3 linked regions of the Homo sapiens genome follow. The protein of the gene in region 1 purifies or fractionates together with the protein of each later gene. This does not show direct contact. Each region holds a gene or a part of one and is shown in the gene's direction. Other genes may lie near its edges. The genes, in order: ZNF738, KRABD3 and ZYG11A.

Evidence for each region.
Region 2: the proteins of ZNF738 (region 1) and KRABD3 purify together in Homo sapiens (affinity purification with mass spectrometry; one large-scale study listed by BioGRID and IntAct). This does not show direct contact.
Region 3: the proteins of ZNF738 (region 1) and ZYG11A purify together in Homo sapiens (affinity purification with mass spectrometry; one large-scale study listed by BioGRID and IntAct). This does not show direct contact.

Annotation. Positions count from the first base shown.
Region 1 is NC_000019.10:21,357,585-21,361,834, forward strand, and holds the start of ZNF738 (zinc finger protein 738), read left to right. Parts: upstream 1-1,415; 5' UTR 1,416-1,556; coding exon 1,557-1,559; intron 1,560-4,181; coding exon 4,182-4,250. UniProt on the Homo sapiens protein: May be involved in transcriptional regulation.
Region 2 is NC_000007.14:149,728,400-149,732,044, forward strand, and holds part of KRABD3 (protein KRBA1), read left to right. Parts: intron 1-123; coding exon 124-276; intron 277-788; coding exon 789-971; intron 972-1,088; coding exon of another isoform or gene 1,089-1,129; exon of another isoform or gene 1,130-1,352; intron 1,353-1,747; coding exon 1,748-1,942; intron 1,943-2,028; coding exon 2,029-2,169; exon of another isoform or gene 2,170-2,314; intron 2,315-3,272; coding exon 3,273-3,377; intron 3,378-3,645.
Region 3 is NC_000001.11:52,856,212-52,859,856, forward strand, and holds part of ZYG11A (protein zyg-11 homolog A), read left to right. Parts: intron 1-786; coding exon 787-1,538; intron 1,539-3,645. UniProt on the Homo sapiens protein: Probably acts as a target recruitment subunit in an E3 ubiquitin ligase complex ZYGA-CUL2-elongin BC.

The DNA of each region.
Region 1 (4,250 bases):
CTTTCTATGGCCACTATCTGTTCCAACCTCAGAACTGAAGATAGATGTTAGTAGGGAGAGGCCCTTCCTTCCCCTCTGGCCCTTCACACCATTGACATCAGAGCTGCCATGTGTGGCTCCTGGGTGCCTGGAATGTGCTTGGTCTGAACCGCGATATGCTAGAAAGGTAAAACACAGAGTTATTTTCAAAAATTTAGTTGCAAATATTTATATACTTCATTAATAATTACATATTCCTCACACATTAAAATGATATTTTGTATATATTAGGTTAATTACATTGTTACAATCAATTCAACCTGTTCCTTGTTATTGTTGTTGTTGTTGTTGCTGTTGTTGCAGTCTGTCACTAGGCTGGAGTGCAGTGGCGCAATCTCGGCTCACTGCAACCTCTGCCTCCCGGGTTCAAGCGATTCTCCTGCCTCAGCCTCCCCAGTAGCTGGGATTACAGGCATGCGCCACCACGCCTGGCTAATTTTTATATTTTTTTCAGTAGAGACAGGGTTTAGCCATATTGCCAGGAGGGTCTCAATCACTTGATCTCGTGATCCACCAGCCTCGGCCTCCCAAAGTGCTGGGATTACAGGCGTGAGCCACTGCGCGTGGCCTCTTGTTTCTTTATATTTTTCACCCCCCAAAACGGAGTCTCGCTCTGTCCGCCCAGGCTGGAGTGCAGTGGCGCGATCTCTGCTCACTGCAACCTCCTCCGCCTCCCGGGTTCAAGCAATTCTCCTGCCTCAGCCTCCTGCGTAGCTGGGATTACAGATGTCCACCACCACGCCCGGCTAATTTTTGTATTTTTAGTAGAGACGTGGTTTCACCATGTTAGCCAGGCTGGTCTCAAACTCCTGACCTCTTGATCTGCCCGCCTTGTACTCCTAAAGTCCTAGGATTACAGGCGTGAGCCACCATGCCTGGCCCCTTGTTTCTTTTTAATTTTCTAGTTTGGCTACCAGAAAATTCAAAATTCACGTGGCTCACATTTTATTTCAGAGGATTACCTCCTTTTTAAAATCTCAGGCTGCCTGCTCAAAGGACCGTAAGCCAGGAAAGTAAAAAAACCCTGAAATTTTAAAACATTTGTTATTATATCCTTTTCATTTATGTATAGCCATATGATATAGTATTTACAAATGCATATGACCTTATACGCAAGGTTGAATGCAAATACCCTTTGGGGTGGGCCTATCTCAGCTCAAGGAGGAAGCCCTGCCTGAAAAGGCTGCAGCCTAGGCGGTCACTCTTTCTTCATTCAGCCCAGCATCTAATTACATCTTCTGTCAGTCAGGGCCTGAGAGGGTGGGGTTTTAAACGTTATCCAATCAGCGACGCTGGGCTGGGAACTGTCCAATCAGGCACGCAGCTTGAGCGGAGAGGACGGCTTCCGGGATGTGGCGGGATTTGTCCGCTTCTTTGTCTTTGGCTGCCGCTGGAACTCCGGGTCTCGTCTTCACTGCTCTGTGTCCTCTGCTCCTAGAGGCCCAGCCTCTGGTCCTGTGACCTGCAGGTATTGGGAATCCACAGCTAAGACGCCGGGACACCCTGGAAGCCTAGAAATGGTGAGAGTGCGGGGTCCAACATCCCGAGAGAGGGGAAGGGCTGGTTGGAACCGGTGGGAAGTGGCTGTGGCGAGACTCAGGCCTCCCCGCAGTCAGCTCTACAATCTGCGCCCCGAGTTCTCCTTGCCCAGCTCGGCCTCAGTCGCCTTCAGCCATAAGATGGCGGTTGCGCCGACAGCCCGGCCCCCGGGCGTCCTGTCTCTTCCCTGCATAGTGACTGTGCCCTTGCCTGGAGCCCTCTCTGGGGAATCTCTGCACCCGCAGCGCCGCTTCTCTACCGGATTGTGCAGGGACCGTGGGAGGGTCGTCAGGGGAGAATCCTGACTTGGGGTGCGGGTTCATGAATGGGAAGAGGTTTGTTCCGTGGGGTTCCCAGTTCCTATTATCTCCTATTAAAAGTTAATGGGAGTCACTGCAAAAATATTAAAAGAATTTAATCAAAGAGTGGTTCTAGGCTGGGCGCGGTGGCTCACGCCTGTAATCCCAGCACTTTGGAAGGCCGAGGTGGGCGGATCAGAGGTCAGGAGATCAAGACCATCCTGGCTAACACGGTGAAACCCCGTCTCTACTAAAAATACAAAAAATGAGCCGGGCGTGGTGGCGGGCGCCTGTAGTCCCAGCTACTCAGGAGGCTGAGGCAGGAGAATGGCGTGAACCCAGGAGGCAGAGCTTGCAGTGAGCCGAGATCGTGCCACTGCACTCCAGCCTGGGCGACAGAGCGAGACTCTTGTCTCAAAAAAAAAATTAACTTATTAAATAATTTAATCAAAAAGTGGTTCTAGAATTGTAGAGCACCAAGCTGTGGTTTTTAGTTTGTGGTCTATGGGAGAGGCTTGAAAGAAAGTCTTTTGTAAAATGCATGATGAAGAAAACCAAATTTAGTAATTGGTTAGGTACAGTTACGTGGTTTTTTAATTTGTACATTAAAGGTGAAAATTTCCTGGTTATGTAATCGGAGCTCAATTGGCAGTTTATAGTAGGTGAAGCCTCAATTTTGTTTCTCTGAATTTAGTAATTAAAAATAATGCGCCTGAGTTAGATTTTTTAAATTGAAGTAGGAACCCAGGGACTAGAGAAACCTCAGTCTAATTGCCTGCCACTTAATTATTTTCACACTCCACAGGGAACTGATTTTCTGCTGCATTTTTCACCTGGGTCCCAATCAGGGTCTTAAGTCTAACCCCCATCCCTCATTACTCCAACCTCATTCTTGCTTGCAGTAAGATACTAAATTTCCAATTTCTTCTGGGGTTCCCAAATGCCAGCTTTTCCTCCCTAATTCACATTATCACGTATTTGTGTTTTTTTGTTTGTTTTGTTTTGTTTTTGAGATGGAGTCTCGCTCTGTCTCCCAGGCTGGAGTGCAATGGCGCGATCTCGGCTCACCTCAACCTCCGCCTCCCGGTTTTAAACAATTCTCCCACTTCAGCCTCCTTAGTAGCTGGGATTACAGGTGCGCGCCATCATACCTGGCTAATTTTTGTGTTTTTGTAAAGACGGGGGTTTCACCATGCTGGCCAGGCTGGTCTCGAACTCCTGACCTCAGGTGATCCGCCCGCATCAGCTTGCCAAAGTGCTGGAATTACAGGCGTGAGCCACCGGGCCTGGCCACTTATTTTGTAGTGTACTTTTTTATACCGTATTTTAATTAATTATTTTTTGGCAAGGCATTAAATGGTGCTTTTTTCTTTTCTTTTTTTTTTGAGACGGAGTTTCACTCTTGTTGCAAAGGCACATTCTCGGCTCACCACAACCTCCGCCTCCGGGTTCACGAGGTTCTCATGCCTCAGCCTCCCAAGTAGCTGGGTTTACAGGCATGCACCACCACGCCCAGCTGATTTTGTATTTTTAGAAGAGATAGGGTTTCTCCATGTTGGTCAGGCTGGTCATGAACTCCCGACCTCAGGTGATCCGCCCGCCTTGGCCTCCCGAAGTGCTGGGATTACAGGCGTGAGCCACTGCGCCCTGCATAAATGGTGTTTTGGGGGTTTTTTTGTTTGTTTTTTGTTTTGAGACGGAGTTTTGCTCTTGTTGCCCAGGCTGGAGTACAGTGGCATGGTCTCGGCTCACCGCAACTTCTGCCTCCCGGGTTCAGGCGATTCTCCTGCCTCAGCCTCCGAGTAGCTGGGATTACAGGCATGTGCCAGCCACCACGCCCGGCTAATTTTTTATTTTTAGTAGAGACAGGGTTTCTCTATGTTGGTCAGGCTGGTCTCGAACTCCCGACCTCAGGTGATCCGCCCGCCTCGGCCTCCCAAAGTGTGGGGATTACAGGCGTGAGCCACCACACCCAGACCAATGGTACTTTTAAGAAGGTTTGTTATCTGTTTGTAAATATTTTCCATGAAAAGAAAGCAAATAATAATCCCCTGACACTGTGTTGCAAAAAATCTCTGTGTGTCTTTTCCTTTTATCTTTCTAGGCACAGAGATGTTATCGGAATTTTTTTGGGTCAGAGTTCTGCTTTGGAAAATTTATGGGGTGATGTGTCCTCAGCCACCGTTTAGTTTTTTCCCGGTCCTGGGTTTCAGTATTATCTGGGGATAAACCGAGATATCTGCCATGGTTATGTCAGCTAGAGTGTCTAGTGGATATCAGCTTCTGGTTTATTTTCTCCCATAGGACGACCTGAGGTATGGAGTGTATCCTGTCAAGGGGGCAAGTGGATACCCTGGGGCTGAGAGGAATCTT
Region 2 (3,645 bases), on another chromosome or scaffold:
GTGCTCTGTGCCCAGCACCCCTGTGACCCCCCTTCCCTGGACACAGCAGAAGACAGGGGGCTTCTGCAGTTTGCAGAGATTGAGCTACAGTCCCCCTCATCTGTGAATGTTTGATCTTCACAGGAAGCCCACCAGGAAGCTCCCCACTGCAGGGTCTGGAGAATTGTCTCAAGGAGATACCTGTGCCTGTGCTGCGGCCTGCCTGGCCCTGCTCCTCAGCAGCAGACAGGGGACCGAGGAGAGCAGAGCCCAGGAACTGGACAGCAGACAAGGAAGGTAATAGTGGCTGCCGGGGCCCTGGGTGTAGACAGGGCTGCTCTGAGGATGCCCTAGGCGCTGCACCTGTGGGCTCAGATCTGCTCCTGAGCCAACATGGTGCTCTGGAAACAGACCTGGGCAGAGCCTTGTTGGAGGCCAGAAAGCCAGATAGTCTGCAGCACACACGTGTAGACCTGCTGGCACCTTAGTGCCACTGTCTGCGGTTCCACCATCCCAGCTGGAGCTGGCTCCTTGTGGCTGGGTGTCCTTGTCCCGGCCGTGCCAGCCCCACGAGCCTTGGTGTCTGGGCACCAGTCTCCAAGCCCAGGGGTCCACGCAGCTGGGTCTGGGAATAGAGATGTTCTGGAGGGTTCAGGCGCTCCCTGGAACATGACAGATGGGTGTTTCCCACACCTGATGCTGGTGTGCCTGAGAGCCCAGCAATGGCAGAAACTGTTCCCTGTCCCTTCTTCTGTGGCAGCACGAGGCCCCGTGGGGCTGACAGGCCTTCTGATTTCTCATTAAAACAGGACTGAGGGCTGAGGCCTGCGAGTCAGCCCGTCTCGGGCAGGGTAGGGGAGAAGCGCCCACCCGGAGCCTCCATCTGGTCAGCCCACAGGTGTTCACCTCCAGCTGCGTCCCCGCCTGCCACCAGCGGGGGTTCAAAGACCCTGGGGCCACCAGGCCAGGAGTGTGGAGGTGGCTCCCAGAGGGTGAGCTGGCACCTGCCCTCGGTACTGACAGCCCCACTTCAGTTAAAGTGTTTGACAAGGAAATAGACTTCCCTCTCTGTCCCTCTGTTTCTTCCCCATCTCTCATCCTTTCCCCAGAGGACAGAAGCTGGTGCCAAACAGAAACTGAGGTTCGCTAAACAAGAAGATAAAGTGTCACAAAGTGCTGACAAGGAGCGGGGTCGGGAAGATCATTGTTTGTGTCCATCCATTGGGTTTCTCCAGTGGAGAAGCTTCTTGAGGGGGCTCCCGCCGTCCACTGCTGCTGCTTGGTTTAACTTCCAGCAGAATTCCTTCCTAGATCTGCTGCAGGGCCTGCTGGGATGCCTTTGCTGAATAAATGCGGTTTTGCTGACCCTCCCATCAGACGAGGATGGGCCCTAACTGAGCCCCACCCTTGGGCTGCTGGCCCCTGTGAGATACTGGGGTGCAGGGATGGCACCTGCCTGGTGGGAGAAGCCGCCTGGCCTGTGAGACCTAGGCCTGGCTAGAACCTGACTGCTAATGGCTTCCAAGGACTGGAGACTTCCAGAAAGTTCCCCAGCAGACTTTCCAAAGCTGCTGGGGTCCTGGCCAGGCTCTGGCTTCACTTTTGTCCTCTTTCTCTGGCAAGAGAGGCAGCCATTTAGGGTCCACTAGAACGCATGCTGATCGTGGGCTGAGCTGAAAAGGGGACCGGTTCTGTGTGCCCAGACACTAAGGCAGAGACCTGGCTCTCTTCAGGCTGATGACAGAGCACTCTCTGGTCCCCTGCCCAGGGTCTGCCCCCAAGCCCTCCCCGCTGCACTGCCTGGAGAGCGCCCTGAGGGGGATCTTGCCTGTAAGGCCCTTGCGCTTCGCCTGCGTGGGAGGCCCCAGCCCCAGCCCCAGCCCCGGCTCCAGCTCGAGCTTCAGCGGCTCTGAAGGAGAAGACCCGAGGCCAGAGCCTGATCTCTGGAAGCCGCTCCCCCAGGGTGAGCCTGTGCGGAGAGGGAGGATAGCGGGATGTGTGCCAGGGCGCCAGTCACCACTCTGATGCCAGCTTTGTTTGTGACGTTAGAGAGGGACCGCCTTCCCAGCTGTAAGCCTCCTGTCCCTCTGTCCCCATGTCCTGGTGGGACCCCTGCTGGCAGCAGTGGCGGCAGCCCTGGTGAAGACCCCAGGAGAACAGAGCCCAGGTACTGCAGCGGCCTCGGTGCAGGTGAGCCTGGGGTCTCCTGAGGGGGCGCCCATGCGTTCCCCAGAGGACCAGGAGTCCAGACTGGATCCTTTGAGTCCTGCCTGTCGCTTTGCCTGGCTCTTGCCAGGGAGTCCTGCACATTGGCCGTGCTTTAGTTCCCTGTAAGGTGAGCTGTGTCCGAGAAGGAGGGCGGGGCTGCTGGGGGTGCTGGTGAGCAGCTGCAGGGAGGTCTGAGCCACTCACTTGATGCCACGTACACGGTGTTTGCGCTTGCTAATATACACGTGTGCATGTAGACAGATGTGGATGTATTTATACAATAATAGCGTATGCTTTTAAAACTTGGCAATCAATAACAAAAGTCTCAAAAGTGAGATTTCCCCAGCTGGGGGTACTTCTTGGAGAGTGTCCCATTAGGAAAGCTAGAATGCTGCCTATTGCCCCAGGCCACCTTGCTTCTCAATCTCACTGTGACCCACTGTTTGCTCCTAGCAGAAAAAGCAGATGGGACAGGAGACAGGTCCCAGTTGCCTGGGAGAAAAGAGAGTTTAGAGAGTACCTGCTGTCCTGGCCCCCTCAGGAGTGCTGGAGGACGAGGACGAGGAGGGAGAAGCAGTGGTAGAAGGAGGGAGAAGCAGGGGAGAAGGAGGAAGAGGCCAGAAATGGTCAGGGGAGGGAGCTCTCCCCAACTCCTGCAGCTGGCTCCATTTACAGGCATTGGCCCTGGTCTGTGTAGACCCAGGCTGCACCACATTCTTCACTCCGCAGTGGGCCTAGTGGAAAATGGCAGAGTGGGCTGGGTGTGGACCACAGGATGCCCCAGCACGCCCTTGGAAGTCTCACTGGGGCAGGACCCGCAGATGAGAGTCCTTTTTCCCAGCTGCCTCCCCAGCCGCCTCCTCCTGCCGGAGCCCCCTGCATACAGGGCAGGAACACCACACACACACGCACCGCGGCGGGCCCTGCCACCAGAATTAGGCTCCCTCATGGGCCAAGTTTCCGTCTTCTATCTCATTTAATCATTGTTTAAAAGTTGAGAGTTTGATATTGTTTTAGGGTATGTCAGAATGGCTCTGGCCAAACGATCGTCTCCCTGCCCCAAGGTCTCTGTGCTCTTTCTATAGGTACAGCTCAGGATCCCTGCCCGGTTTCTCAGCTGGAGAAAAGGCCCAGGGTTAGTGAAGCATCCAGAGGCCTGGAGCTTGGACATGGAAGACCCAGAGTTGCAGGTGAACTGGTGGCTTCCCCCATTCCCTCTGCACGGGCCAGGACCCAGAGCCCCAGCTTGGGGAAAACAGCCTTCCAGGGTCAGTGTTTGAGTGATGGGTAGGAAGTCTCACCTGTAATGCACTTCAGGTTGCATATTTCCTTTCAGTGTTTTATCACAGAAGCAGTTGGGATTTTCATAAAAGCAGACACACCTTTTAGAGGTGGAAATTGAGAAGTGAAGGATCAAAGTTTGGGGCTTGAGGGGACTTTAGAGAATAGGTGAGGAAA
Region 3 (3,645 bases), on another chromosome or scaffold:
TGGTATTTACCTGGTATGCCTCCCTATACTGAATTCCTTGTGGTCACAGGTGTCTGATTACCTTACGTGCCTGTTACATAACATGGAATCTCACCATAGAAGATGTGTAGTAGGCCAGGTGCAGTGCCTGTAGTCCCAGCTACTTGGGAGGCTGAGGCAAGGGAATCGCTTGAACTTGGGAAGCGGAGGTTGCAGTGAGCCCCCACTGCACTCCAGCCTGGGTGACAGAGCAAGACTCCATCTCAAAAAAAAAAAAAAAAAAAAAAATATGTGTAGTAAATGAAAAATAGGACAACCCATTCGTTTTACAGATGAGGAAAATGAGGCCCAGAGAGGTAAGTGACTTGTCAAATATTATCTACTAATTTGGTTAAAAATAATATTAGTAGTGCTACTTGTATATTGTATATCCTGTACTTATCTACCTATTTTATTTTGTTCTTCCTTTCTGTGAGCAAGGTTACTGTAGATAAAATTTTGGGCTCTACAGCCAAACTGGGGTTGACTCCTGATTCTGATGGTGACCTTGGATAAATTACTTAACCTATTCAAGTTTCAGTTTCCTCAGCTACATAGTAGTAGTAACAATAATTCCTTTATAGTATTAATGCAAAGAATACATGAGATAATAATCTTATTAAAGGAGTTTAGAACAATGCTAGCACAGAGCAGTAAATGTTGTCATTATTGTTATTATTAACATCTGTCTTAATTCTTTGCCACATTTTATCCTGGAAAGACATGAGATCTAGTTGTCATTACAAGTTGGTTCTGGTTCTTTCATAGGCAAGCTGACTGACAGAACAGCCAGCATTTTCCGAGGCAACCAAATGAAACTGAAGCTGGTCAATATCCAAAAAGCTAAAATCTCTACAGCTGCATTCATAAAAGCCTTCTGCCGTCATAAGCTCATTGAACTGAATGCTACTGCAGTGCACGCTGACCTCCCAGTTCCAGACATCATAAGTGGACTCTGCAGCAATAGGTGGATCCAGCAAAACCTCCAGTGTCTCCTGTTAGACTCGACAAGCATCCCTCAAAATTCAAGATTACTGTTCTTTAGTCAGCTCACTGGTCTTCGCATTTTAAGTGTTTTTAATGTTTGTTTTCATACTGAAGACCTGGCTAATGTTTCTCAGTTACCAAGACTGGAAAGCTTAGATATCTCTAATACTCTAGTCACTGATATTTCTGCACTGCTTACCTGTAAGGATCGATTGAAGTCTCTCACAATGCACTATCTGAAATGCCTGGCCATGACCAAATCACAAATTCTTGCAGTCATTAGAGAACTTAAATGTCTGCTTCACCTTGATATTTCTGATCACAGGCAACTCAAATCAGACCTAGCTTTTCATTTGCTACAGCAGAAGGATATCCTGCCCAATGTTGTGTCATTGGATATTTCTGGGGGCAATTGCATCACTGATGAAGCTGTAGAACTGTTTATACGACTGCGGCCTGCCATGCAATTTGTGGGACTATTGGCCACGGATGCTGGCTCTTCTGACTTCTTTACTACAAAGCAAGGCTTGAGGGTTTGTTCTTATCTGAATAAGTTTTGTTTCATTTGTTTAGAACATTATTAAACTCGTGCTATAGACCAGACTTTTTACTAGGTATTAGGGTTACAGAGACAGATAAAAAAATCCTTAAAGAGCTTTTTTAATAATTAATGATTATTATGTACCTACTATGTGGAAGGTTGTGAGAATATTATTATTATTTTTTGAGATGGAGTAGTTTTGTATTTTTAATAGAGATTGGGTTTCTTCATGTTGGTCAGGCTGGTCTCGAACGCCTGACCTCAGGTGATCTGCTTGCCTCGGCTTCCCAAAGTGCTGGGATCATAGGCATGAGCCACTGTGCCTGGCCACACGTGAGAATATAATATTAAGATACAGGCTGGGCATGGTGGCTCACACCTGTAATCCCAGCACTTTGGGAGGCCAAGGCGGGCAGATCACTTGAGGTCAGGAGTCCGAGACCAGCCTGGCCAACATGGTGAAACCTGGTCTCTACTAAAAATACAAAAATTAGCCGGTGTGTTGGCGGGCGCCTGTAGTCCCAGCTACTTGGGAGGCTGAGGCAGGAGAATCACTTGAACCTGGGAGGTGGAGGTTGCACCACTGCACTCCAGCCTGGCCAAAAGCGAAACGCAGTCTCAAAAAAAAAAGAAGATATAGTGGGTTCAAGTGATTCTCCTGCCTCGGCTTCCCGAGTAGCTGGGACTACAGGCACGTGCCACCATGCCCAGCTAGTTTTTTATTTTTAGTAGAGACGGGGTTTCACCATGTTGGCCGGGCTGGTCTCGAACTCCTAACCTCAGGTGATCCGCCTGCCTCGGCCTCCCAAAGTGCTGGGATTATAGGCATGAACCACTGCGCCCGGCCCGATTATTATTATTATTTTTTTTTGGAGACTGAGTTGTGCTCTTGTTGCCCAGGGTGGAGTGCAATGGCGCAATCTCGGCTCACTGCAACCTTCGCCTCCCGGGTTCAAGCGATTCTCCTGCCTCAGCTTCCCGAATAGCTGGGATTACAGGTGTGCACCACCACACCTGGCTAATTTTTTGTATTTTTAGTAGAGGCAGAGTTTCACTATGTTGGTCAGGCTGGTCTCGAACTCCCAGACCTCAGGTGATCCACCTGCCTTGGGCTCCCAAAGTGCTGGGATTACAGGCATGAGCCACCATGCTTGGCCCAGAGCTGTTGTTTTAAAGTAACTCTTTCTTTATAATAATACCTCCTTAGTTCTTCCTAGGGGAAGAGAATAAAGTGATTTGTATACTCATTAGTTGTGTTAACATTTTATTCTTTTGATTTGAAGTTAGCAATTGTTGTATTTTAATTAATTAATTAATTAATTTTTTATTGAGACAGAGTCACTCTGTTGTTCAGGATGGAGTGCAGTGGCACAATCTTGGCTCACTGCAACCTCTGCTGTGAGCTGAGATCCCCAAATTTTTTTTGGGACAGTCGAGTCCTGCTCTGTCGCCCAGGCTGGAGTGCAGTGGTCCGATCTTGGCTCACCACCAAGGATTATCTCTTCCCCCCTTGGATAAACTTGGCATCTTTGTTGAAAATCGGGTGTCCGTATATGTGTGAGTCTGTTACTGGGCTCTTTATTTTTTATTTTTTTTGAGACGGAGTCTTGCTCTGTCGCCCAGGCTGGAGTGCAGTGACACGATCTCTGCTCACTGCAATCTCCGCCTCCCGGGTTCACGCCATTCTCCTGCCTCAGGCTCCAGAGTAGCTGGGACTATAGGCACCCACCACCACGCCTGGCTAATTTTTTGTATTTTTAGTAGAGATGGTGTTTCACCGTGTTAGCCAGGATAGTCTCGATCTCCTGACCTCGTGATCTGCCTGCCTCATCCTTCCAAAGTGCTAGGATTACAGGTGTGAGCCACCACGCCCAGCTGGGCTCTTTATTTTTATCTGTTTGTGTATTGCCTTTTTTTTTTTTTTTTTTTTTTTTTTTTGAGACAGAGTCTCGGTCTGTCACCCAGGCTGGAGTGCAGTGGTGTGATCTCGGCTCACTGCAACCTCTGCCTCCCGGGTTCAAGTGATTCTCCTGGCTCAGCCTCCCTAGTAGCTGGGACTATAGGCGTGCACCACCACGCCCATCTAATTTTTGTACTTT